4 linked regions of the Homo sapiens genome follow. The protein of the gene in region 1 purifies or fractionates together with the protein of each later gene. This does not show direct contact. Each region holds a gene or a part of one and is shown in the gene's direction. Other genes may lie near its edges.

Evidence for each region.
Region 2: the proteins of SDHAF4 (region 1) and GLRX5 purify together in Homo sapiens (affinity purification with mass spectrometry, with the first as the bait; one large-scale study listed by BioGRID). This does not show direct contact.
Region 3: the proteins of SDHAF4 (region 1) and LEMD3 fractionate together in Homo sapiens (co-fractionation; one large-scale study listed by BioGRID). This does not show direct contact.
Region 4: the proteins of SDHAF4 (region 1) and PITRM1 purify together in Homo sapiens (affinity purification with mass spectrometry, with the first as the bait; one large-scale study listed by BioGRID). This does not show direct contact.

The regions. Positions count from the first base shown.
Region 1 is NC_000006.12:70,570,551-70,578,847, forward strand, and holds part of SDHAF4 (succinate dehydrogenase assembly factor 4, mitochondrial precursor), read left to right. Parts: intron 1-8,297. UniProt on the Homo sapiens protein: Plays an essential role in the assembly of succinate dehydrogenase (SDH), an enzyme complex (also referred to as respiratory complex II) that is a component of both the tricarboxylic acid (TCA) cycle and the mitochondrial electron transport chain, and which couples the oxidation of succinate to fumarate with the reduction of ubiquinone (coenzyme Q) to ubiquinol.
Region 2 is NC_000014.9:95,541,550-95,545,049, forward strand, and holds the end of GLRX5 (glutaredoxin-related protein 5, mitochondrial precursor), read left to right. Parts: intron 1-2,397; coding exon 2,398-2,576; 3' UTR 2,577-3,165; downstream 3,166-3,500.
Region 3 is NC_000012.12:65,170,688-65,178,984, forward strand, and holds part of LEMD3 (inner nuclear membrane protein Man1), read left to right. Parts: coding exon 1-431; intron 432-8,297.
Region 4 is NC_000010.11:3,164,037-3,172,333, reverse strand, and holds part of PITRM1 (presequence protease, mitochondrial isoform 2 precursor), read left to right. Parts: exon of another isoform or gene 1-120; coding exon of another isoform or gene 121-152; intron 153-2,127; coding exon 2,128-2,230; intron 2,231-5,291; coding exon 5,292-5,398; intron 5,399-5,953; coding exon 5,954-6,105; intron 6,106-6,806; coding exon 6,807-6,921; intron 6,922-6,999; coding exon 7,000-7,096; intron 7,097-8,297. UniProt on the Homo sapiens protein: Metalloendopeptidase of the mitochondrial matrix that functions in peptide cleavage and degradation rather than in protein processing. Has an ATP-independent activity. Specifically cleaves peptides in the range of 5 to 65 residues.

The DNA.
Region 1 (8,297 bases):
CGGCCTCTCAAAGTCCTGGGATTACAGGCGAGAGCCACCGTGCCCCCCACCACCCTCCCTGTCTAATCCTTATATCTTTTTTCTTTCTTTGCTCAGATTTCCAGCACCATGTTGACTAGAAGTGTTGACAGCAAGCATACTTATCTTGTTTATGATTATAAAGGGAATGCATTTCTTTTTATCATTAAGGTGTGATATTGCAGTCATTTAGATAAAATTGCTACATTTTTTTTTAAGTCACCATCTCCTAATAACTTCTAAGGCATGTTTTATAAACGAATCCTCAGGGAAGAGTTCTAGCTATCTCCCAAATAATTCTGTTCTTTTAAACCAAAAAATCTCCGTCTTATGTTTTTGTTAAAACTCTTTATTTTGGATTTACATTTACTTACAGGATTTAATGATCCATAACTGTGGGTCTTCAGAGTCCAAGCCTTTGTGAAATAAAATTTCATGGAACATGAAAAAAAAAATATGGTATTAGCTACAGTTATACCCTTTTTGGGTTAAGGAAGTCTGTTTCTATGTAGAGTTTTGGGATTTTGTTTTGTTTTTGTTTATGTATTTGTATTTGTTTTTTAATGATGAATAAATCTTGAAGTTTACTTAATTGATTTTTCTTTGTCTTACTGAGGTGTTCTTCGTCTTACTGAGGTGTTTATCATTTTCTGCTTTAATCTGTTGAGGTGGTAAATTACAGATTTTTCTGATAGTGAATCACTTGCATTCCTAGAAAATATTCCAAAGGATCATAGTGATTATATTTTTAAATATAATGTTGTATTTGTTGTGCTTATATTTTGTTTAGAAATTGGCCTGTAATTTTCTTCTATTATACACTGAAACCCCTGCCTCCCGGGTTCAAGTTATTCTTCTGCCTCAGCCTCCGGAGTAGCTGGGATTACAGGCACACGCCACCACTCCCAGCTAATTTTTGTATTTTTAGTAGAGACAGGGTTTCACCATATTGGCCAGGCTGATCTCAAACTTCTGACCTCGTGATATGCCTGCCTTGGCCTCCCAAAGTGCTGGCATTACAGGTGTGAGCCACCGCGCCCAGCCTTCCCTGGTTTTAATATTAAGGTTATTCTAGCCTCATATAATGTACTGGGGATTCTACTCACTCTTTTCCCTTCTTTGTTAGATTTTGTTTAAGATTGGAATTATTTGTTCCTTGAGGGTTTGTTACAACTCACCTGCAAAACTGTCTAGACCTGTTCTTCTCTTCGAGGGAAGACTTTAAATTACTTGTTTAACTTCTATAATGGTTATTATTATATTTATCAGGTTTCCTCTTAAGTCAGTTTTGGTAAGTTAACTTTTTCTGGAAAGGTTTCCATTTTGTATTGTTTCAATATATAGGCATAAAGTTTCTGGTATTTTTTTAAAATTTTCTGCTCTCCATATAATATGTACTCTCTTTTTCTCATATTATCTATTTTGCTTTCTCTTGTTTTTTTATAGTAGCCTTACCAAAGCTTTTACAACACTTTCAGTCTTTTTTTGTCTTTTTTTTTTTTTTTTTTTTTTTTTTTTGAGACAAAGTCTTGCTCTGTCGCCCAGGCTGGAGCGCAGTGGTGCGATCTTGGCTCACTGCAACCTCCACCTCCCGGGTTCTAGTGATTCTCCTGCCTCAGCCTCATAGCTGGAATTACAGGCGTGCACCACCATGTCTGGCTAATTTTTGTGTTTTTAGTAGAGACGAGGTTTCACCATGTTGGCCAGGCTGGAACACTTTCAGTCTTTTCAGAGCACCAACCTTTGTTTATTGTTGATCTTCTTTGTTATAAGTTATGCAAAGGATATTTATTGTACAACATGGTGACTATAGTTAATATCAGTGTATTGTATACTTGAAAATTGCTGAAAGTAGATTTTAAATTTTCTCATCACAAATAATAGATATGTGAGTTAAGGCATATATTAGCTTGATTTAGCTATTTCACAATATATACATATTTGAAAACATGCTGTACACCATAAATGTATATAATATTTATCAATTAAAAAATGAAGACTATATTGAAAGTTATTTTTACATTGTAAATTATGTTTTTATTCATTTTTTTCTTATTATCTTATTTTTCCATTTTCCGTGGTTTTTTTTTTAAACATGCAAATGGTGCATCTCACATAAACAGCATATGGCTTGTTTCCGGTTTGTTTGTATGGGGGTTTTTGTTGTTTTGCAGACTAATAGTCTCTTTACCCTTATAATTACTGATAAAATTACATTCCTCTGTTCAGACTCGTGGGTCTGTGTGTGTGTGCACATGCATGCACAGGTATGTGTGTTTTGGGTGGGATTTTGATTTTGATAAAACCTATAAAGATTTTGATTTTGATAAACATAAAGACTTTTGTATAGTCAGTATGTTAAAGCATTTTCTCTGTATTCTTATCTCCCACTTTACTTCTGGGAACACTTTTTTCTTTTTTCTGAGAGACAGAGTCTTGTCCTGTCACCAGGATAGAGAGCAGTAGTGCAGTCATAGCTCATTACACCCTTGATCTCCAGGACACAAGCCATACTCCCGCCTCAGCCTTCTGCCAAGTAGCTAAGACTATAGGCACCACCGTCATGCAGTCATGCCCAGCTAATCTTTCATTATTTTTATTCATTTGTCTCTATGCGTTTTTCTGTATAATTTCTTTGCAACTTTATTCCAGATTATAAATTCTCTTTTCAATTGTATTTATTCTGCTATTTGGCCTTTTTTTTTTTTTTTTTGAGACGGAATCTCACTCTGTCGCCCAGGCTGGAGTGCAGTGGCACAGTCTTGGCTCACTGCAAACTCTGCCTCCTGGGTTCAAGTGATTCTCCTGCCTCAGCCTCCTGAGTAGCTGGGATTACAGGCACCCTCCACCACACCCAGCTAATTTTTGTATTTCAAGTAGAGACGCAGTTTCACCAGATTGGCCTGGCTGGTCTTGAACCCCTGACCTCAGGTGATCCACCTGCCTCAGCCTCCCAAATTGCTAGGATTACAGGTGTGAGCCACAATGCCCGGCCAGCTATTTGGCCTTTTTATTGAGTTTTAGGTTTGTTATTTCTGAATTTCCGTGTTTTTCTTTCTTTTTTTTGGCCTAATTTTTCTTTTTCTTTTCTTTTCTTTTCTTTTTTTTATTTTTTTTTTATTTTTTATACAGAGTCTTGCTCTGTTGCCCTGGCTGGAGTGTAGTGGCGTGATCTCACTCACTGCAACCTCTGCTGCCCTGGTTCAAGCGATTGTCTTGCCTCAGCCTCCCAAGTAGCTGGGATTACAGGTGCCCACCACCACGCCCAGCTAATTTTTTGTATTTTTGGTAGAGATGGGGTTCCACCTTATTGGCTAGGCTGGTCTGGAACTCCTGACCTCAAGTAATCTTCCTAATTTGGCCTCCCAAAGTGCTGGAATTATAGGTGTGAGCCACTGTGCCCAGCCTAAAAAAAACTTGCAAAGCCAAAAGTAATTAAGCAAAAAGAGATGATGAAAAATGATTAGGCTGGCTGGGCACGGTGGCTCATGCCTGTAATCCCAGCACTTTGGGAGGCCAAGGCGGGTGGGTCACCTGAGGTCAGGTGTTCAAGACCAGCCTGGCCTACATGGTGAAACCCCATCTCTACTAAAAATACAAAAATTAACTGGGCATGGTGGCACATGCCTGTAATCCCAGCTATTGGGAGGCTGAGGCAGGAGAATCGCTTGATCCCGGGAGGTGGAGGTTGCAGTGAGCTGAGATCACACCACTGCACTCCAGCCTGGGTGACAGAGCAAGCCTCCATCTCAAAAAAAAAGAAAAAAAAAAAAGATGCTTAGGGATTTTTGGAAGATGCAGCTAGTGTGTAGTTAGGCCTAAACACGGGTGTGGGTCAGTCAGTGGCTTCAGAATCTCAGAGGGGCTTCTTTTTTTCACATCTTCACTCAGAACCAAGGTTAAAGTAGATACTTTTTCTTCCTTAACTGTCTTTCTTCTAGTTCCTTGCTATTTGGAACAGCATCATAAGCATCACCTGGGAGCTTGTTAAAAATGCAAGAATCACAAGTCCCACCTAGAACTACTCAGAATCTGCATTTTAACAAAATCCCCCAGGTGGTTTTTATCTATGTTTTAAATCTTTCAGCTGGGTGCGGTGGCTCACACCCATAATCCCAGCACTTTGGGAGGCAAGAGGATCACTTGAGTTCAGGAGTTTAAGACCAGCCTGGGCAACATAGTGAGACCCCCATCTCTACAAAAAATAAAATTAGCTGGGCATGGTGTTGTGTGGCTGTAGTCCCAGCTGCTGAGGAGGCTGAGGCAGGAAGATGGTTTGAGTCCAGGAGATCAAGACTACTGTGAGCCATGATTCTGCCACTACACTCAAGACTGGGCAACAGAGCAAGACCCTTGTTTCAAAAAACAACAAAAATCTTCCAGTTCACTTTCTTTTCTCAGTATGTGAGCCTCCCTGAGTCCTGGCTTCTCCTGCGCTTTCTGTTTAGCTTGAGTTTAAGAGACTGTCATCTCCCTGCTGTCCTGAAAGCTCTGTATCCTACGATCTAGGCAAGAAAGACACAAGAAGGCTTTGCACCATGGCTTATGCCTGTAATCGCAATACTTTGGGAGACCAAAGCAGGCAGATCACTTGAGGTCAGGAGTTCGATACAAGCCTGGCCAACATGGCGAAACCCTATCTCTATTAAAAATACAAAAATTAGCTCAGCGTATTGGTGGGTGCCTGTAATCCCATCTACTCGGGAGGCTGAGGCACAAGAATCACTTGAACCCTGGAAGTGGAGGTTGCGATGAGCTGAGATCGTGCCACTGCACTCCAGCCTGGGGGACAGAGTGAGACTCTGTCTGAAAAAAAAAAGGACCCTCCTGGTCAACATGGTGAAATCCCGTGTCTACTGAAAATACAAAAACTTAGCTGTGTGTGGTGGCTAATTTTTTTTTGTCTCTGTTCAAAAAAAAAAAAAAAGACGCAATAAGTGTAGCCATTTCACTTTGTGTTCACCTCACTGGACTGTCTTCAGTTTATCATTATTTACTTTCGTAAAGGTTCTATCTCTGATTTAGAAGATGTTTGATTTTGTTTTACCTTTTTAGGTGTTTTATAGCTGTAGAGTTTTGGCATTTCTGATTTATCAAATTACCAGAAACAAAAGTTTTGAGTTGTGTGTTGTTTTTGTATATGTGTGTGTGTGTGTGTGAGAGAGAGAGAGTCATTCTTTTGCTTTTATTATTTCTTCTTTTAGAAGGTTTTCTTCTTGTCTATTATGTCCATGTAAACACAATTCTAAATAGGTTTGGATAAAGTCAAACCACCCCTTGAAGTAGAAGAGATGGGCTTTATGGTTGTTATTTCATGATGTTGTTAAAAGAGGCTTTTGTTTTAAGTTTGTCAGCTATTTCCCGTGTAGTCGAGGTAGTCAAAAGTCTGCTGATAGCCAAAATGTAATCCTAACATGAATACAGTTACTATTGCTCAACACCTACTGTTTAATAGGCAGAATTAACAGGAGTGGTCCTTGGGCTTAGCTCCTCATCTGACACGCCCTTGTTTCTTTTGCTCTGCCTTTGAAGCTACTTGTATGTGCTTCACTACCAACACCCCTGGCAGGCTGATGTGCACACACTTGTGTCGAAAGCTGTAAAGCCTGCAGGTGCCAAGGAGCACAGTGTCCCATCTTACCTTGTACTGTACAGAAATGAGGGGCATTATCTTCCCCCGTGTTCTGTCACACTGTTACCTGACTACAAAAATAGTTCTGTTTATGTTTCCAACGGCCTCAGAGTCCCTTGAGAAAACTGGTCTTTCAACTTTTCCTTGTAAACCCTCTTTCTACAGATAAAGTCCTTCAGAAGTCTGCAAGGTCATATTAGGGACCAGTTTCTCCAACTTACACTTTGCTCCTCCTCGCTTTCCCCAAGACACAGTTTTCTGTTCTTCACCAGAAACCCTTACACAAATTAACTTATACATCCCAGAGTTAGGCTCAAGTTATTGATGCACTTGCTCAATGTGTACACATACACAGATATACACATATTTATCTTAACCACTTGTATGCATATGTGTTTGTGTCTATTTCTTTAAACAAGGTAGGGTTATGTAGTGATGACTAGAATATGAGAAAAATATGTGTAATGAAAAAACATTCTAATATGTAATGCTGTCAAAAGCTTACAGATAATTCCATCAAACTAAAAATAAATACTGTTTATCACTATCCTAAAGGCATAAATTGTCCCGTTTACTCAGCAATCTCATGTGACAGGTACTGTAATTTTTCTGTTTACAGGGAAGGAAACAAAAAGGGTAACTTGACCAACATCCAACACCTAGTAAGTGGTTGCATTTGTTTCCTATTGCTGCTGTAACATATTACCACAAATTTGGTGGCTTAACACATTTTACAGGTTTGGAGGTCAGGAGTCTGGAAGGGGTCTCACTGAGCTAGAACCAGGGAGTTAGCAGGGCTGTGTTCCTTCTGGAGGCCACATACATTTCCTTCTCTCTTTTAGCTTCTAGAGGCTGCCCACATTCCTTGGCTTGCCCCCTTCCTCCATCTTCAAAGCCAGCAACATCGGGTCTGGTCTGTCTTCCAACCCTGTCTTCCCTTTCAAAGGACCCTTGTGGTTACATTGACCCACCCCATAATCCTGGATAACCTCCCTATTTTAAGGTCATCTGATTAGCCACCTTAATTCTGTCTGCTACCAAAATTCTTCACCGTGTAACCAAACCTATTCACAGATTCTGGGTATTGGATTCTGATTATCTTTGAGGCCATTATTCTGTTTGCTACAGAGGTGTAGCTAGAACTTGTACTCAAATTGATCTGCTTCTAAAAGCAATTTCTTTAGGAAGCTGGAAACCCCTAACGCTGAGATCACTTTTTTCCCTGTGGTTTTGCCCTTGCTGAATATTATCTCAATGAGGGTTTGGATAACTTTTATAGCATAGAAAGTTCAACTCTTTTTAGAAACTAGAGAGAAAATGATGTCATTTACGCATTGCAGACACCCAGTACATTTTAAAATCCGAAGTTTTATTTTAGATTCAGGGAGTACACGTGCAGGTTTGTTACCTGGGTATATGTGTGATGCTGAGATTTGGGATACGAATAATCCCATCACCCAGGTAATGAGCATAGTACCTAAAAGTTAGTTTTTCAACCCTTGCATCCCCTTCTTCCCTCCCTGACAGTCGTACCCAGTTTGTATTGTTGCCTTCTTTATGTTCTTGAGTATCCAGTGTTTCACTCTATAGAATTAGAAAATTATATGTGAGAATATGCAATATTTGGTTTTCTGTTCCTGCATTAGTTCACTTAGAATAATGGCCTCCAGCTGCATCCATGTTGCAGCAAAGGACATGATTTCATTATTTTTATGGTTGCATAGTATTCCATGGTATATATGTACCACATTTTCTTTATCCAGTCCACCATTGATGAGCACCTAGGTTGATTCCATGTCTTTGCTATTGTGAATAGTGCTGCAGTGAACATGCAAGCGCATGTGTCTTTCTGGTGTGAAAAATGAGTAGTTTTCTTTTGGGTATATACCAGTAACAGGATTGCTGGGTCAAATGATAGTTCTGTTTTAAGTACTTTGAGAAATCTCCAAACTGTTTTCCACAGTGGCTGAACTAAGATACATTCCCACTAGCAGTGTATACGCATTCCCTCTTCTCTACAGCCTCACCAGCATCTGTTGTTTTTTAACTTTTTAATAATAGCCATTCTGACTGATGTGACATGGTCTCTCATTATGAGTTTAATTTGCATTTATCTACCAATTCGTGATGTGGAGCATTTTTTAATATGTTTGTTGGCCGCTTATATGTCTTCTTTTGAGAAGTGTCTCTTCATGTCTGTTGTCCATTTTTTAGTGCGGTTGTTGTTTGCTTGTTGAGTTGTTTAAGTTCCTTATAGATTCTGGATATGAGACTTTTCTCAGATGTGTAGTTTGCAAATATTTTCTCCCATCCTGTAGGTTGTATGTTTACTCTGTTGAGCGTTTCTTTTGCTCTACAAAAGCTTTTTAGTTTAATTAAGTCCCATTTGTCAATTTGTTGTTGTTGTTGTTGTTGCAGTTGCTTTTGAGGACTTAGTCATAAATTATTTCCCAAGACCAATGTCCAGAAGAGTGTTTCCGAGGTTTTCTTCTAGGATTCTTACAGTTTGAGGTCTTACATTTAAATCTTTAATCCATCTCGAGTTAATTTTTGTATGTGGTGACAAATAGGGGTCCAGTTTCATTGTTCTGCACATAGCTGCCAACTATCCCAGCACCATTTATCAAATAGGGACTTCTTTCCCCAT
Region 2 (3,500 bases), on another chromosome or scaffold:
GGCTCATGAGAAGTTAGTATCACTTGCATGTGGCTGTGTGTGTTGGGTGTTGAGAATGTCTGAAAGCCTGCTTGTTTTGATAATTTTGGTGGTAAGGATTCTGGGGGTCTCCCCTTCTCTCGTAGTCAGGACATATGATCAACAGCAACATAAAGTTTAATCAATGAGGCAAGCCCAATGCTTCGATTGAGTGTGATACTATAAAAGTGATTGATGAAAAGCAATTTTACTTTAAAAACATGTATTTTTTGGGTAAAACATGTAGTTTTGGGTAGTTCTCAGGCAGCAAACATTTCCATTTTTGGTGTGTTTCAGAAATTATAGACATCCATCAAAATAAATCAGTAAAAATTGATTATCATGGAAAGCTTCACACAATATATTATTCATTGAAACAAAACAGGTCGTTCATGCACATAAATGATTCATTTGTATAAAAGGTATTTAAGAAAGTTGAAGATAATGAAAAGAAGCTCACGTTTACTTTAAATATTTCTTAATTCTCGCACCCAGCTCTCAGTCATCATAAAGGTAAAAGTTTTGTAATCGGCATCATTGTAAAAAGTGAGTTTTGATAGACTTTGTATTTGAGGACAGAGTTTGAAGAAAGTAAAAAAACACACAAATTATGCTAGTTGTTTTTGTTGATGGAGCATCAAACATCACCATGATGAACAACTTGAATTCATCAGGGTATTCTACTATGTCTAGATATTTGGCATTATAAAGACATTTTGATGATTAATGGAATTTACCCTTTATTGGCAGCTGCCAAAGAGCTAGCTGTTGTTTCTTTACTAGCACCCAGAGTGGCTGAGAGGTGTCCTTTTGGAGGCCTAGAGCAATGTAACCCTTTCTTAATATGTGAAGTCTGGAGAAGGAAGATAAAGCCCTTGGTTCAGGGGCTTTCTTTAGGGCTGTCATTTAGAGCAAAGTCAGTTTTTTTAATAAGGCAATAACTTTTAAGAAAAAAATAAATAGTATATTGGGACTTGTGATATAACTGAAATCAGTAATTTTATTTGGAAAATGTTTGATAATAAATTATAGGGTATCAAGAGCAAGTTTTTGTATTTTTAGTTTGTTTACATAAAAATCGATTTGTGTAAACTGTACTGGACTTGAACAATCTGTTGACTTTTCCGTTTTGTTTATCCATATGCTCATTTTGGCCATTTAAAAATATCTATCTATGTAAATATAAAAGTGTCACATAAGTGTTAGTTATTATATGCCATGCTTTGACCATCTTCGTTTTTAACATGACCAATACAGGCTTTTTAATGGCCGACTATGTTTTTGAAAGCACAGTCATCTCAACATACAAGTAGAAAAGGAAGTAGACTGATGAAGAGGAATGTTAAGAGTAATCTTTTATGTCTTAAGATTGAAGCCACATTTCTTTCTTACCATTTTGTTACAGTCATCATCCTTGTGGCTCAGAATTGAACAGAGTAGTTGCACAGCTGCGCTGTCACAGAGTGTCCCTCATCTCATGTGTGTCCTCAGAGCCATTTGCACACAGGACTGATCACATGCATGCTGGTTGGTTTCTTGGCTGCTGTGAGCGCTTAAGAGCAGAGCGGGTCTCACTCCCCCACCCCTCAGCCCTGGACAGGGACCTTGCTGAGCTCTGGGCCTTCATTAGACTCACCAGTCACTTCGGGTTCTGCACAGAGCCTCATCATCCACTCCACAGAGAGCCCATCACAGTGGCTGGATAGATGGGAACTGACAACCCATAGCTGTGGGACAGGGATTTTTCCCTGGGTAAAAGTAATTGTTAAAAATTAAAAAAAAAAAAAACTCAACAACTCATCATCTCGAGGAGAAGTGACTGACGGCCTGCACCAACTTAGACAGTCACAGTCATGAAAAGTGCACAGGTGGGATTGCCCGAGTTGGCCATGAATTACCGTGATGGATCCATTTGGAAATGAAGTTGGTTGTGACATTTCTTCAAGTTTTGTTTCGCTTGAAGCTTGACTGGTAGATGGAGAATTTTGGCCTTATGTATCTTATGTGACTTGCATTACCCAGTCCAGTCCTCTGCCATTAATCTAAGGTCCGCAATGTATCAGGTATTTTACTGAGAATCTTGCTTACCTAATTCTCACAAAAAAAAAAACCTTGGGAGATGAGGGTGGAAACAGGATGAGAGGTCAGGTGACTTGTCTGAGGGCTGACGGTTTGTAATTGGAAGAGTCAGGGCCTAACCACTGGTCTCTTTGACACAAAAACTCATGCTCTTAGTGGCAAGCACAGTGTTCTCAAGATTGGGGGAAGCCAGGGAGGGACAGTGGGTTGTCTGCTACTAGTGGGTCAAAATTACATATTTAGTCATGAATGGTTCAGCTTTTACCATTTAAATAACAAATAAATGTTCTTTCTCCATAGGCATTAAAGACTATTCCAACTGGCCCACCATCCCGCAAGTGTACCTCAATGGCGAGTTTGTAGGGGGCTGTGACATTCTTCTGCAGATGCACCAGAATGGGGACTTGGTGGAAGAACTGAAAAAGCTGGGGATCCACTCCGCCCTTTTAGATGAAAAGAAAGACCAAGACTCCAAGTGAGGGCGGCCAAGTCCTCGCTGAGCAGAGAGGGAGCCGTTCATGTCAGAGACTCACTGCCAGAAAAGCCTTACCCATTTTGGTTTTCACTATTGAGACCGCAACTGCTTGCACTGATCATTTTGGTTCGTGAGCAGTTGGTGATTTTAGTTGGTCTGGTGTTCGGGCTAAGAATATTTTATTGTGGACTTAATTACAACCACTGCACTGTAATGATTCAATGCTGTATTATGATATTGCTGTAAACAAAATTCATTCTTATATTGTCACTTATTCTTTGCCTGATTCAGAAGTTAAATAGGAGCTTTGGAATCATTATTCATGACCCCTCTGCAAATGTGTCAGTCTCCAAAGAGAGTATCTCCCCCCAAATTTTGTGTAGCTTCTTTTGTTATGGAAAATGGTGAACAAAAAAAGAAACTGTGATAACTGGGGCGTTGTTTTTTAAAATAAACTCCAGCACAGGGATGCTGTGCATGCCTGAGTTGATTCCGAAGTGCATATGTCTGTAAGGATTTGGAGTGCCTGCAGTGTTTTATGTGTGGGAAGTAAGGGTGAGTCTCATATTCTTCTATTAAATTTGCCACAAGAATTGCCGTCGAGCCCTGGTCTACTTTCTGGGGGAAGCAGCTGTTTGGATGGTGAGTCAACTGTGCAGCTGGAGGCGTGGGTGGGCTGGAGGGAGCAGAGGTGGGTGAGGCCGGAGGAGGCGGCCCCACCTGCCTATCTCTGGAGCCCTGTGCTTGGCACACTGCTACAGTTAGATAGGGAGACATCGTCAACAGTCCACCGAGCTAGGGGATTTAATGAGTATTTTACTTCTTAAAAAGTGGGGACTTTCTAAAAGAGGACATAATTTGGAATTGTGGCAGAGATTCTCCCAGTGTCTGGTGTCTTTATAAGACCTTTCCATGAGTTCTGCATCCC
Region 3 (8,297 bases), on another chromosome or scaffold:
GACCCCTCTCCTGCCCCCGCCACTTACTGACATGGACTCAACCTTGGATTCGTCAACAGGCTCCCTTCTGAAAACCAATAATCATATTGGCGGTGGGGCCTTCAGTGTGGACTCCCCCAGGATTTATTCTAACAGTCTCCCTCCCAGTGCGGCGGTGGCCGCCTCTAGTTCACTCAGGATCAATCACGCCAATCATACGGGCTCCAATCATACCTACCTGAAAAACACATACAACAAACCGAAGCTTTCCGAACCCGAAGAGGAACTTCTCCAGCAATTTAAACGGGAGGAGGTGTCCCCAACAGGGAGTTTCAGTGCCCACTACTTGTCGATGTTTCTCTTAACTGCTGCCTGCTTATTTTTCCTAATACTGGGACTGACTTACCTAGGAATGAGAGGGACAGGAGTATCTGAGGATGGAGAACTCAGCAGTAAGTATTAAATCCTGTGGGTAAGGTAACAAAGAGAATGTTGTTAGTGGTCCGCTTTAGCCGCGCTTAGCGTTTTACATGAAGTGACTTACCTGCAAGAATATGGTTTAACAGCAAAAACGCAACAGTGCGTGCATGTGTCATCTTTCTTAAAGAACACCATTATCGAAATGATGTCATATGGCTGGTTTTAAAAGTTTTCTGCATGATGTATTGTGAAATTCAAAACAATTTTTAAAAGAATATTATAAGCTTGTTAGTAAAACTCATTTGTATATGTGACAATTCTCTTTTAGCCCTGAAAGACTATTTGCGCAGATGCCAGTTACTTAACAAATTTGAAGTATTAGGATAAGGCACATTATAAATGTAGTGTTTTTCCAAATTGAGTTGTGATTCTAATAGGCAATGTAATAGCTCTTGAAATTCGAATTATTTTATAATATTAACTGTATGCATAAATTCGGATTAAATATTTTGTGGTATTAACTGTATGTATAATTTCTTTATAGTGAATGAATATAAAAAAGCAGCAAGGCACACCTCTTAATTTATTTCCCAGCCCAAAGCACTTTCCCTATCATCTGTACAAAAAGTAGTGGTAGGGCAGTGCAGGAGCTTGCAGTCAGATTTCCTTGGATTGGTTTCCAGGTCCTACTATTTACTTGCTAAATGACTGTAGGCAGGTGTGTTCATTGTCATAATCAAAGTATCTCTGCCCTTAAACACAAAAAGAAGATGAATACAGACCATTTTGTGTTCTCTGAAGGAAATAAAGATGAGTAATTGGCGTACACAACTTTATTTTTTTTCCTTTTTTAAAAAAATTTACCAGACTACACTGACGTAGGTGTACACTACTTTAGATTGAACGGAGGAGGTACTATTTGAGGTGAGACCTGAAGCAGAAGGAGACAGCCTTGTGGAGAAACAGTAGACCATTCTGAGCAGAGATTAAGGCCTTGAGTTGAGCAAGAGCCTTCTTGTAGGTTAGAGTGGTTAAGCACCTTGAGCAAAGGGGAGAGAGTCAGAGTTAAAGCTTCTGAACTTTCCTAATCTATAAGATGAGGCCTCTATTGACTAGAATGTTTGTGAAGATTAAAAGAGAAAGTAAATTAGGACAAAATGGACTTCTGAATACATAATTTCTCAGTGTTAGGTCCCTCTCTGCATTCTCCCTGAAGGCTTCCTACTCTTTTCACCCAAGATGAATTCACTGTATTTTTATTTGTATTTATAAAATTGGCTTATTAGTTTTATTTCAAAATAGAGTGAAAGATGCAGTTAGCCAACTCAGATAAAGAGTAGGAGTCAAAATAATGTAAGCTTAGATTTAGATATAGCCAATTCCGAGACAGTCAAATAATAGATTTTTACTCTGTTGCTTAATTACAGGGGTTGAAACAAGAATGAAATTCAGCTCTCACTTTAGTTTATTCCCTGGGAGCATGAGTGTATTGTGTCCTGCCCCAAATATTTGGGAGAAAAAAAATAAGGGCACACTAGAAGTTAAACAAGTAAAAGTTCACATAAATTAAATGACATTACCTATCAGCAGTAGCTATCTGCATCTGTGTCTCTAACAACTATAAGATCTGGCCTTTTTCTTTTCTTTTTTTTTTTTTTTAGACAGAGTCTAGCTCTGTCGCTAGGCTGGAGTGCAGTGGCACAATCTCTGGTCACTGCAACCTCCGCCTCCTGGGTTCAAGTGATTCTCCTGCCTCAGCCTCCCAAGTAGCTGGGACTACATGCGCGTGCCGCCACACCTGGCTAAATTTTTTTTGTATTTTTAGTAGAGACAGGGTTTCACCATGTTAGCAGATCTGGCCATTTTCTAAGAGCTAATTGCTTTACACCTATTGTACCATCTAATCTTCCCAGCAACTCACAGAAGCAGGTGGTGGTATCCTCATTTTTGGATGAGGATGATACTAAGTTAAGAAATGCACTGAGTGTTGAACAGTTAGTAGTAGGGCTAAGATTTGGTTTCAGATTTTATTTCCAACTAGAAAGACCATTTTAACACTGTTTTGGTTATTGTTTGTAGAGAGCTTTCTAAATAAGTGGGTACCTTTATTATGATTAAGAAAGTAATTGACTATTTGGTAGGATTTCATACAGAATTATTGATAAGCACAATTCTCAGTTAAGGTGACTTTCACATCTTTCTCATCAGTGTTAAGATGAATGACTAATGTGGTGTACTAAAAGTTCAGGTAGAATAGGATAGGAATGCTAGGATTTTGGTACTCTTCACCTTCACTGATAAGGAAGGAAGGAAATTATATTTACATTTTAGTAAATGGTAAATGTGAAGTAATCTGGGCGTTGGAAAGAACAATGGCTAAGAAGTAGAGGATCTAGGTTCTAGGACTTGTCTGAATGACTGTGGTCAAGCTCCTTAATCTCTGAGCCTCATTTTTATATACTAAATGGAAGTAATAATATCTGCTGTCTCTGGGTTTGTTTGTGAGGGTCAGGTGAGACAGTGTGTTAAACATAAGGTGGTATTATTCAGAAATTTGGACAAAATTTGTTGTATTCCTGGTAAACTACAGTATATCTAGAGAGATAAATAGTTAAGACATTTCTATAAATGACATAGTATAGTGCATTTCTTAACCTAACATTTGATTTTTATCCCATTAAATATACATTATAGAAATTAATACAGAAATTTGAATCAAAGTATAATGAATCCTTAAATGTATGATACACTTGATGTATTGTATGTCTACCCTGTGGAAAGAAGTGCCTGCTAACTTCAGTTAGTCTGCACACCTAACAGTGTTAGGGTATCAAGAGTGAATAATATTTTCACTCCATATATATATACACACACATACATACACGTATTCCATATCCTTTGTTATATTATGATGCTTTAACTGTAGAGTTCATTGGTCAAATAGTATGCTTAGGGAAATACGTTTACTTTGAGTAATAGTTTTCACCAGAAGATTGTAGGTTATATGTGAGAGTAACTTTTAGGAGGCTTTTATTATTTAAATTACATATAACATATAGTAGATTAGTCTTTTAAATTGTTCTTAATCATATAGTCTTTGAAACTTTTTCATCAATGCCCTATTTTTTTATTAATTAAATTGCTATAAGTCTCTTCTTCCTCATCTATAAAACTAGGGGGTTGGATTAGATGATCCCTAAGCTCTTTCCAGCTCCAAGATTTAAGATTTTAACTTTGAACTGCCATACCAAAACAACTCAAGGATCAACCTGCAATCAGAGTAGTCGCTTGTTCCACAGGTGATTAGATCATTATAGCCCACCAAACGAAAATAGAGAAGCAGAATAGATTGACTGTCCTAGGCTCGTATGATCATTATTAATTTTTTTTTCAATTACAAAAGACATGACTTCTGCAGAAAGTTTGAATAGAGATGAAGGAAACAGTGAATGGTTATTGTATGCCTCTCTTCCTAGCCTCATGCTGCCCCCATATAAATAAGTTCAAGTATTAGATCCTTTCTGACCTTTCTTAGTATTTTTCATGTAAATACATCTCTGTGTGTGTGTGTGTATGTGTGTGTGTACAGATTTTCATTCAACAGCAGAGTGTCTACTATGTGCCCGGTATTATTTTAAGCAGCAGGGATATGTGGTGAACAATATGTTGCATATGTGGAAGATGAAATCTCTGTTACAGAGCTTACATTTCTAGGAGGGGAATGGACAAGTAAATAAGAATTTCACATAATGGTAGTTGCTAACACAAGGTATTGCTGGTAACTTTTGGGGGCTGAGGTGAAGAGATATGCAATATTACATAAAGGTAGGCAGACCTCTCTGAGGAAGGATGTTTGAACTGAGATATGAATGACTTGAGGGAACTAGCCTTTGATCAGGAGAAGAGCATTCTGGCAGAAGTATCAGCAAGTGCAGAATTCCTGAGGCAAAAACAGGCTTGTGTGTTGAAGGACCAAAAAGAATGGCCAGTGTTGCTGGGACATAATGAATGAAGGGGAAAATGGCATACCATGAAGTTAAAGGTAGGTATGGGCCAGATCATAAAGACCTAAACGCCTTGAGGGCCGTTGAAAGGAGTCAGAATTTTAAGTGATATTATAGCATACATATTCTGCAACTTGTTTTTTGTATCATGGGTAACTTTTCCATATACTAATTTTAAGTACAGAGGTATAATTTTAAAATCTCATTTTCCACTAGTCCCTTTCTCATCCTATAAAAATACTAAAATCTCTACCATTCTAAAAATGTTGCTCTTCTGTGCTCTTTTCTTCTCTAGTTGTTACTCTTCTCAAACTTTCTGCCTCTATTTTCTTCCCTGCCATTCACTCAACCCTGTCTAGTTTAGCTTTCTTTACCAGCCATTCCTCTGCTACCTCTCTTCTTCAAGTCACCAGTTACTCAATTTTCAAATCCTCATCTCTTTGGTACATTTAGTGCATTGACAACTCCCTTCTTCATGAAACTTTCTCCTTTCTAAGCTTCTGTATCACTACTCTCTCCTAGTTTTCATACTTCTGTCTGCCTGTTTTAAATATTGGTGGTCTCCACAACTTGATCTTTGGCTGTCTCCTTTTGCACACATTTCTCTAGGAAGTTTCATTCACTCTCCTTGTCATTATCTTCCAGTTTTGTATTTTTACCTTGGATTTCTCCTGAGATCTAGGTATACCTATTTGTTTACTAGACATCTTTTGGGTATACTAGAAGTATGTACCAATACCATCTGACATTTTCTTTATATTTACCTTGTTTTTGCTCCTCCTCCCTGTTTAGTTAATGGTGCTTCCATCCACCCAGACAGAGCTCAAGAGAGAAACCTTGGATTTACCTAGATTCTTTCCTTTCCCTCACCTTCCTACAAACCCCCAACCTAATTGGATACCAAGTCCTGTAGTTCTGTTTCCTCTATATCTTTTGAATCAATCTTTTTCTGTCCCTCGCCACTGTTCTAGGTTAGTCTCTTGCCTGAACTCTTTCAGTAACCTAAAATGGTGTCCCTGCTTCTAGGCTGTAGCTCTTCCAGTCCATTTGTCAGTACAGAGCAGCGTTTCTAAAGCACAAATGTGATCATTCCCTCTTGCTTAAAATTACACAATGGCTTTCTCTTAGTTATTGGCCAAAATCTAAACTCGTTGGCTAAACTGTTCATGATCTGACTATGCTTGCCCTTTCTACCAGTCTCCCTTATCACACTTACTTTCTAGAAAACTGAACTGTTTGCTGTTTTCTGAGTAAGTCATGAAATTTGTGCTTTTCTACCTTTGCACAGGTTATCCCCTTTTTTGGGAATGTTTCTTTATTTTGTAACTGTGATTCATTCTTAAACATGTCATCTCCAGATATCTCTGACTCTCCATCTTTTTACCCTAGAGTTTGGCCCATCATTTTGTGCTCAAATAAGACATTAATTGCATCCTTCATAGTATTTAGGACAAAGTATTATATTTGTGTGTCCACCATGCCAAATAGATGACAGCTCCTTTCTTTAGAGTAATATTTCTATAGGAGTAGAATACAGTGTTAAAGAGTACAAACTTTTTACTCAGTTCTGATTTTGGCTCTACTTTTTAAAGTAGACTATACTAGAGATATAATTGCCTCATACTAAAAATGAGATTGATAATACTATCTGAGGATGACTTGTATTAAGTGAGATAATGCATCTAAACTAGTGTTGTCTGGCACATGGAAATCTCTTAGTAGATGGAAGTCACATTAGTATCTTCAGCACAGATTCATTATTCAGCAAATATCTGTTGAATAAATGATCACATATCAGGTACTCAGGATATATGCACTGTTAACTGGTAGTATCTAACTCGGTAATTGGTTATCTACTTAGTATCTGGTAAGGATATATAAAAGAAATCTTATTTCTGTAGAAGCCTCCACACCACTAATAACAGTAATAGGAAATGGCTAAGAAACATACAGGATATTATGTGGTTACACACTTTTATAAAAGGGGAGAATTCACTGTAAATTCTCAAATGATCAGTCTTACATGATCAAAAGTTCTAAATTCAACATTTGGATTTTATTCTGTAGGTTGAGTAATGGCAATTCATGGAGGTTATAAAGCAGAGGACAAGCATGATCGAATTGGTCCTTTAAGAAGGATAAACAGGTGATGGTTTAGACAGTGATAGGGTTGGAGGGAAGGAGTAGGGTGATGACACCTGAAGGAGGTGGATAAGTGGGAATGGAGTTGGGCCTATGAATGAAATTCATTTGAAGAAAGACATATGGTTTTGAGTATAGAGAATAAGAGACAGATAGGAGTCAAAGATTATTCTGGCCATGAGCCTGGATGACTGAGAGAATGATAATATCATTGGAGGAATTAGAGATGTGGAAGAGGGATCTTGTTTGGGGAAAAGTGGTCTAGGGAAAATGAGTTTACTTGGGGCTTATTATTTGAGTTGTTCAAGTGAAAAATTCTTGTAGGCTCTTGTAGATACAGAATTGGAGTAAAGATGAGAGACTGGTGCTGAATGTGAGTACTAGTACTGTTTACTAAGGGAATACTTTTAAATGTTTGTTTTTTTAATGTGTTGTTGTTTTCTTTAAAATCAAGACCAGTTGTTACAAAGAAGTAACATGTTTTAATGTCATTGTCGTTTAAAAAATATTTTTACTTCTTAAAGTAGACTAGCCAAAAGGTCCCGAACTTGGTATCTAAAATGAATATGGGGAATAAGGATTTTGAAAAATAGCTGTTGCTCTCATTCTTTTTTTTTTTTTTTCAATATGAGACAGGGTCTTGCTGTGTCACCCAGGTTGGATTGCAGTGGTGTGATCATGGCTTACTGCAGCCTCAACCTCCCAGGACTCAAGCAATCCTCACAGCTCAGCCTCCTGAGTAGCTGGGACTATAGATCTGCATCACCACATCTGGCAAATTTTTTGTATTTTTTGTTGAGACAGGATCTCACTTTGTTGTCCAGGCTGGTCTTGAACTCCTGGGCTCAAGCGATCCTGTCACCTTCGCCTCCCAAAGTGCTGAGATTACAGGTGTCAGCCATAGCAGCCGGCCTATTCTCTCATTCTTGAAGAATGAAAGCTCCATGTTATGTTTGAAGTTTTACGAGTTGACTGCTTTGTAAGAAAAAAAAAAAAATCCTAGATCTATGAGAATATTCCCGTGAATGCCAGGGATTTGCATATACCAGTTTGATGATTTCAGAAATTAAAGTCTACTCTATGAAAATGTTTTTCATTTGAAAATTTTCCCTAGAATGATTTAAATTAAAAATAATGAGGAAAAACTTGTGAATCTCTACAGATATATCCACGGAGACTAGTTTGAGGATACACTGGCATAGCTATCAGAGAACCTGGGCTTCAATATTGGCCCTTCCACTTACTAGCTTTTTTTCACTAAGGCAAGTTGCTTAGCCATTGTAAACCTCAATATCCTCATATGAAAAATAGGTTAAATGAGAATGAAGTAATGTGTGTAAAGTAAAACTCATACATGGCACATAGTAATAATAATAACTAACCCTTACGTAGCATTAACTGTGTTCCAGGCACTGAGCTAAACAATTATTATTTAATCCTTATGAGGTAGGTACTTATCCCATTTTATAAGTAAATGGAGACACTGAGAAGTAACTCGCCCAGGGTCATGTAGCTAGTAAGTGAAGCGGCAGTATTTGAACTCAGACAGTGGCTCTTAACTGTTCTTCTAGATTGCCTTTTAATATGTATAAATAAGGACTTGATATATGTTCTCTACTATTATTGTCTTTATTTTCAGAAAACTGTGACAAGTATAGATTCATAAAATCCTAGAAGTGGCAGGAATAATCTATGAAACCTAACAACTTTAGGAAAAGTTGTATTCATTCAACAATTATGAATCACATGGAA
Region 4 (8,297 bases), on another chromosome or scaffold:
CACAGCCCATACTTAAAGTCTCGCTGTGTTCAGAGAACTGACGCCTCCCGGAATTGAACTGTTTTGTTTTTTTAATGACTCAATTTATGGGGAAAAAAATGACGAAGCAGTTTAGTGTTCATGGTAATCCACGAGCCCGTGTTTAATATAAGGTAATAGTTCAGCGCTGCCGGCCCAGGCCGGGAGGCACGGGGCGTCCGTGGCATGAGTTCGGCCTGGCCTTACCGCTCAGGAGTTTCCTATCATGTCCTTGATAAGTAACTTCTTAAAACGCTTCTGTCCCATAATTCTGAAATTTGCTAAATCAGTAAGCAAATGTTGGTTATAGCATATCTTCATAATATTGCCAGTGACTGAATAGGTTTTTTCTTCCTGTACATATTATCTTTAAAATAAATATTTCGGTGGGATACATTAATGTAGAAAATCCCATACGACATATAATACAATTGGAGAGAATAATAATTACGTGTTTTTTAAGAGCAGGGATCTTGCTCTGTTTCCCAGGCTGGTTTGATCCCCCTCCTCAGCCTCTCGCATTGCGGGGTTACAGGTGTGAGCCATCTCATTCAGGTGAGAATAATTATTAGAAATAGGTTGGGCGCGGTGGCTCACACCTGTAATCCCAGCATGTTGGGAGGCCAAGGCGGGCAGACCACTTGAGGTCAGGAGTTCAAGACCAGCCTGGCCGACATGGTGAAACTGTCTCTACTAAAAATACAAAAATTAGCTGGGCGTAGTAGTGAGCACTTGTAGTCCCAGCCACTCAGGAGGCTGAGACAGAATTGCTTGAACCCGGGAGGTGGAGGTTGCAGTGAGTCGAGATTGCACCGCTGCACTCCAGCCTGGGCAACAGAGTGAGATCTGTCTCAAAAAAGAAAATTAGTGTCCCTGTGACCAAGTTGAAGATTCCCCTAACTGCTCGTAACTCTCTCCCTCCCTCTTAGATTATCACGGTCATAACATACAGAAATGTCCTTGCTTTTTTTTTTTTTAATATTTTACCATTTTTATGCGTTCTGACAATGTCTTGTTACCTATTTGAATAATACCTGTTTAGGATAATACTGTATCATGTGTATCTTTTGTTTCACGTTATGTGACCCATATCTTTGTTACATGCCACTGTAGGCCCTTATATTGGTAAGGTTTTTTTTTTTTTTTTTTTTTTTTTTTTTTTTTTTTTAATTGAACGATTAGTCCGCACTTTATCCATTCTCTGTCGATACACCTCCGGGTGAGTTGAGTTTGGGACTGTCAGGGTTCGTGCTGACATTTTTGTCTGTGAGTGCTGGGGCCGCAGTGTAAGGTGTGGACGATAGAGACCAAGAGGTGAATGGATTTCCAATCTTCAGCATTTTTTTCTTTTTTTTCCGACAGTCTTGCTCTGTCACCCAGGCTGGAGTGCAGTGGCGTGATCTCGGCCCACTGCAGCCTCCACTTCCCGGGTTCAAGCGATTCTCCTGCCTCAGCCTCCCAAGTATCTGGGACTACAGGCACCTGCCACCACATCAGGCTAATTTTTGGCCAGGCTGGTCTCGAACTCCTGACCTCAGGTGATCCGCCCACCCAGGCCTCCCAAAGTGCTGGGATTACAGACGTAAGCCACCACGCCCGGCCTCTTCAGCCTTTCTAAAGAATGCCAAGTGCTTTTCCAAAGTTATTCCACTTTGTACTCCCTGTAGCAGTGTATGAGAGTTCCCGGTAATATTAGGCTTTTTAAGTTTTCAGCAATTCGGTAGGCATGTAATGGGATTTAACTGTAGTGTGAATTTCTTGGTATACTGTGAAGGCTTTTGAGGATTCTGTGAAGGAAAGAAGCCCTTTTGTTTAAGAGTTGTCTCTTAAACAAGGGGAATTTAAACTGTAATTGTATTATAGTTATTTGTGAACAAGTGTAAAGAAAAGGTTTCCAACATTGAAGCTTTAGTTAAGATAAAGATCATTAAAATGGAAAGGACCTTACCAGAAATCAGTTTTCTGGAATGTGCAAGACTTTGGAAGATGCAATATTTAATTTTTCTTTAATAATCTTTATTACATGAGAGTATTTTCACTATGTGGCTGAATAATGTTAGCCAGATACTTTTCCTGCAACTCATCTAACTTAGATGACTTTTAATCTAGACATGCACACCACAGAGCGTGGCGATGGAACAGTAACCGGGCTTGTGAGAGGGCTCTGCAGTATAAACTAGGAGACAAGATCCATGGATTCACCGTAAACCAGGTATGGGTCGTCCTCGGCACCTCCTTATAAATCCACATACATTGCAGGTGCGGCTTCTGGCCTATGTACGGAGCCCTTCAGGGCGGAGACTAGCGTTTTTGTCCTTGTGTCCCAAGGCCCTGGCCCAGCTCCTGCTGTGTGGCAGCTACTCGGCTGAACAGAGCTTGTGAGTGAAATGAGCCCCAGTCCCTTCCTGGAATCCCGCAAAGCCTGGTTCTTGTGAGATTTTAGAGAGTAACACTTCCAGCTGGGTCTCTGTAATCAGACACACTAGCGTTTCTGCAGCCAAACCTGATGTTTCACTGAGCATGAGCATGAAGACTCACTGCCCTGATCTGTTTAGTCAGGTTTTGCCATCAAATAGCTTGCTCTAAACGTCCGCAGAACCTTTCAGTTTTCTGAGCCATTCGGGTTTCAGAATGATAAAGAAGCAATTGTGGACCTGTACTTACTTGGGTCTGTATTAAAATAGATTCATTTGGTTTTTGTTTTGTTATTTTGCCTAAACCTTTTGCATTGTTTCTATTTAGCATGGTAACTGAAAATGACACGCTTCATGTATTTGGCCAGCTGTTGGCTTTGTGCTATGCTTGATGTTATAGCAAACGTGAAAGACAAACAGCTTACTGTCTAGAAAGACTGCTGCGGCTGTGACCGGAGGCACATGGTGGACGCCACGCGGAGGGCCAAGGACAAGGGCAGGAGGAGGAGTGGGAGCTGCTGCTGCTGGGGGCAGAGGGAAGAGCTCCTGGAGAGGGTGGTGTGAGAACGTGGCTGCCTTCGGTCAGGGCTCCAGCAAGGGAGCCAGGGCAGTGACTAGGGTGCGCCAGACAAGGTCCAGGCATGGGACTCATGAAAAGACTTGGAGCGTTTGTGAAATCCTGCAAAGGCCAGGCAAAGACACTTGGGTTTATGGTACAGGTTACTGTTAATAAGGGCCTCACCCACAGCGGTAGATTCTCCTCCTTTATTTCTCAAATTTTATAGAAACGTATTTACTTTTGAGACTGGGACTCACCCTGTCGCCCAGGCTGGAGTGTGGTGGTATGATCTTGGCTCACTGCAGCCTCGAACTCCTGGGCTCAAGCGATCCTCTTGCCAAGTAGCTGGGACAAGGTGCCACCACGCCTGGCTAATTGTGTGTGTGTGTGTGTGTGTGTGTGTGTGTGTGTGTGTGTGTGTGTGTGTAGATGGAAACTTTGTTGCCTAGACTGGTCTCAAACTCCTGGGTTCAAGCAATCCTTTTGCTTGTGTATTAGTCTAGTCTCACACTGCTATGAAGAAATACCCAAGACTGGGTAATTTATAAAGTATGAGCTAAAAAGTGAAGAGGTTTAATTGACTCACAGTTCTGCATGGCTGGGGAGGCCTCAGGAAACACAATCGTGGTGGAAGGCATCTCTTCACAGGGCGGCAGGGGAGAGAATGAGGATCAAGTGAAGGGGGAAGCCCCTTATAAAACCGTCAGCTCTCATGAGAACGTGCTCACTGTCACGAGAATAACATGGAGGAAACCGCCCTCTTGATTCAATTACCTCCCACCAGGTCCCTCCCACAACATGTGGGGATTATGGAAACTACAATTCAAGATGAGATTTGGGTGGGGACACAGCCAAACCATATCACCTTGGCCTTCCAAAGTGCTGGGATTATAGGTGTGAGCCACTGTGTCCAGCCATAGAAACTTACGATAAGTCATGATTCTTGTTTGAGAAATAGCTACCATGAAAGCTATTATTATTAAAGCTATATATTATTAGAAAGCAAACATCTCACTGTATCTGCTGACTTCAAAAGCATTGATCATCTGTTACAAAGTACAGTGAGCTTGGAAACAGAAGTAATTTCGCGGCGGTAGATGATGCAGGTCATAGTGGTCTGCTTTATGCATGACTGTTGCGTGGCAGGCTCCCTAGATTGGGCTGAGGAGACCCGAGGTCTGACCTTGGCCAGCGACTTACTGTGTGCGCTTGGCCAGGTGACTCATGGCACCTGGCAGGAGGGGGTGGTGAGTGGTGTGGTGATCACAGGGACGTGGTGTGTGATTGAGGGAGAGGGCCGGCTGGCATGACTGGAAGAGAAGACAGTTTCTTTCATACCGAGGAGTATGGTCACTTACCAGGAGGCTTACCTAAAGTAGGAGATGACCTTCCACGCCGCCCCAGGAGTGGGGAGTCTTTCGTCTGTCTTGTGGGCATTTCTATCCTCCCGGCCCCTCCAGCTGTTCTGGAAGCCACAGCTTTGTGCTTCTAGCTACCACCGAGAACCCATCCTAAACTAAGAGAAGCAAAGGCTGATCCTAGAGCCTCTCCCTGCTGTCGCAGGCTAGCCCACTCTAGCATTTCCCCTCCTTGCAGGCCCGTTCTGCGCACTACAGGAGATGATATGCACAGAAACAGACACACAGCCAACGTTGGAAGGGGTGCTGTGTTACTGAGGCGCAGCACACAAAAGCAGGAGACACTCAGCAGACATTGGAAGGGGCGCTGTGTTACTGAGGCACAGCACACAAAAGCAGGAGACACTCAGCAGACATTGGAAAGGGCGCTCTGTTACTTAGGTGCAGCATGGTACCATGGGAAGGGCAGACACCAGGGTGAATCCTGGCTCTGTGATTTAGGCAGCTTATTTCATCACCCTGAGCCTCGGTTTTTTCGTCTGTAAATGAGTATGAGAATACCTCCCTCACAGGATTATATGTGACATGATTAGAAAATGCCTAGCCAAAAAAAGAATAAAAAATTTAAAAAATAAAAAAATCTAAAATACCTAGCCAGTAGTAAGCGCGTGCGCTCTCGCGCTCGCTCGCTCGCTCGCTCTCTCTCTCTTTCTATACACACACACACATATTCTCATCTGCCTTTTTTAGGTCTGTCTTTCCTTGTTTGTAGGATAAGGGACCTGGACAAGATGGTTCTCTTCTCTCCAGCTCTGAAATACTGCCTTCCCGGCATCATCTAATTTCAGGCAGAAAAGCCAGTTTTCTCAGTGTGTCGAACATAACCATTTCAAAGGCCATTTTGTCTAAGTTTAACTGGTCGTGTTTTTCTTGTTAACTCAGGTGACATCTGTTCCCGAGCTGTTCCTGACTGCAGTGAAGCTCACCCATGATGACACAGGAGCCAGGTATTTACACCTGGCCAGAGAAGACACGAATAATCTGTTCAGGTGTGTGGTGCATTGTAAGAACATGGTCTTGAATGTTTTTATTTAAATCAGGAATGTCCATTCTTTTGGCTTCCCTGTGCCACAATGGAAGAAGAACAACTGTCTTAGGCCACGCATAAAATACACTAACACTAAGGACAGCTGATGAGCTAAAAATAATAAATAAAGGACCCCTCAATGTTTTAAGAAAGTGTATGAATTTGTGTTGGGCTGCATTTCAAGCCATCCTGAGCATGCGGGCTGCAGGCTGCGGGTTGGACAAGCTTGATTTAAAACATGGCTATACATTACGTGGTTTAAAATATCATCTCACTAGTATTTTTATTGACAGAGCATCTTGAAAAATAAGGAAAAGTTTACACTGACTTATAATCTCATCAAAATACAATTTTACAGTCTGAGTCAATGATTTACATTATAGTTGGAAAACCCTGTGCTGGAGGATTGTGGTGTCAGAATGATGATTTCTAGTAGCCTGAGGTGATGATGCATCTGGGAACTGTGTCCGCAGCACTAAGCTGAACCTTTTGCGTTCTGGTCATTCTCCTTCCCTAGCGTGCAGTTCCGTACTACTCCCATGGACAGTACTGGTGTTCCTCACATTCTTGAGCATACCGTCCTTTGTGGGTCTCAGAAATATCCGTGCAGAGACCCTTTCTTCAAAATGTTGAACCGGTCCCTCTCCACGTTCATGAACGCCTTCACAGGTAAGACCAGCATCCTGAACAGAAACTGCTTTTGGGTTTGCCAGGCACACCCACTGGAATTCAGTTAGTTTCTGAGAAGGAATGAGGGGAGTGGGCAATTCATGTTCTAGAAAAATTTTTACCTCTCTCTAGTTGAAGGACATTAGAAATTTAATCCTTCAGGAAAGCCACATGGTAGCGAGATTGTAAAAACTAGCGTTTTAAGAAAACATATGTGAACTTTTCCCAGAAAAGTTCAAAACAATTTTCTCTTGGAGATATCGCTACAATGCCAGAGTTACTACTAATGTTGATGTTTGACTTTTAGTAAGACTGACGATAGTGGATAGGGTGACGATGAACAGTGCATTCTGTGGGGGAGTGACATTGAAGAGCGGGTTAAATCCATGCTGTTACAGAATGAGGTCATCTTTGTAGATGTATGAAAGTCTCTGGAGAAACTTGAGAGAGTTTAGATATTCGCTGAAGAAAGCCCTGGTGCCCGTCGAGTGCAGATCCTGAGACGGGATGGGAAAGCCGGCACTTGGGGTTATGAGCTGGGACAGCTGCTGAGGCCAGGGACCAGAGCATGGGGCCACTGCCCCATCCCAAGAATAGCTACAGCTTACTGTCCTAGGACAAAGGGGGAATGAGTCTTGAGAGTCAATAATTTTAGTAGAAATCTGTTATATTTTACAATTTCACTTTTCATTTGTACCCAGCTAGTGATTATACTCTGTATCCATTTTCCACACAAAATCCCAAGGACTTTCAGAATCTCCTCTCGGTGTATTTGGATGCCACCTTTTTCCCATGTTTACGCGAGCTGGATTTCTGGTATGTCATGAATGATTAACTAGTTGATACAGACTTTAGTATTTGAGTCACTATCAGCTTATAATGATTTGTCCTCAGGCAGGAAGGATGGCGGCTGGAACATGAGAATCCGAGCGACCCCCAGACGCCCTTGGTCTTTAAAGGAGTCGTCTTTAATGAGATGAAGGGAGCGTTTGTAAGTTTTCTTCCTTTTTTATGTTGTGTTCAGCTTACCTTTCCCATGTACAATATCATGATATAGACACATCTGGAAGATTTTATTTAATATTCTCATTATAGGTGATACATTCTTGAATTAGCTGGGGTCAGTGCTGTGAGCAGAAGTCGGGGTAGCAGGGCCAGGCTGCTGTTCTTCCCAGCAGGTCTCAGACCATGTCTGGGGACCCCTGGTATGTGATCTGCAGCAAGTCTGTGAGATAAAAGCTATTTTCATACCACTACCAAGACAGTGTCTTTTCATTCATTCTTGCCCAAGTACACGGTGTACTTTCTAGAGGCTGCATGGCAAGGTGTGTGACACACAGCGAGCTGCATACAGAGCAAATGGGGGAGTCCAGCTTCACCTCTGAGCCAGACGCTACAGAGATTTGCAAAAAAGGCAACACAGCACCACTCTAATCAGTTTTTTACTTTGTTATGAGAAGTATTTTTCAAAAATATTTATATCAACATGTAATGATGGCTTACCTTAATGAATAAGTATTTTTTAAATGTCTCAGCTTTAATTTAGAATATAGAAAAATTATATAAACACACACAGGCACCTACACAGGCAAAAACGCCCACATAATCAAAAGCTGTTTGGGTCCTCATTAAAACGCATTTATGCCTAGTGTTCCATTATTGGCACCCTAAGCTTGTGGGAGTTATTTATGTCCTACAGCTCAAGGTCATCGCCAAGGTCTGATTTTTTACAAAAAAATTGCAACCTCAGGCATAAATGGGTTAATTTTTCAGAGTGTAAAGGATTCTTGAGACCATTTTGGATTAAGAGCTGCTGTCCTGGGCCCATGTCTTCATGTCCCTTTGTGACTTGGACAACCTGTCTGTCCTGGTGTCCCTGAGGCTCATGGGTGGCCTGCTCTCTGATTCCCGTAGCTCCTCTCGGCTGGTGAACTATTTCTTACCTTTTCATTCTCAATTTGGTGGTCTTTTCTTCCAAGGAGTCTTCTTGAACTCAAGTTGGGGTGACAGCTTCTCCCCACTTCCCTCACGGCTGGTGGGCAGACCGACTGATCCATCCCGATTTACAGCCCTCAGCTATGCGTTTGTTGCACCACACATCAAAAAATCCATTGTTCTTCTCAATCCTTGGGTCCTGTGCGTGGGTGATGAATGATTGAATACCGTGTTAAACAATGCCTGCGTGGGTGTTT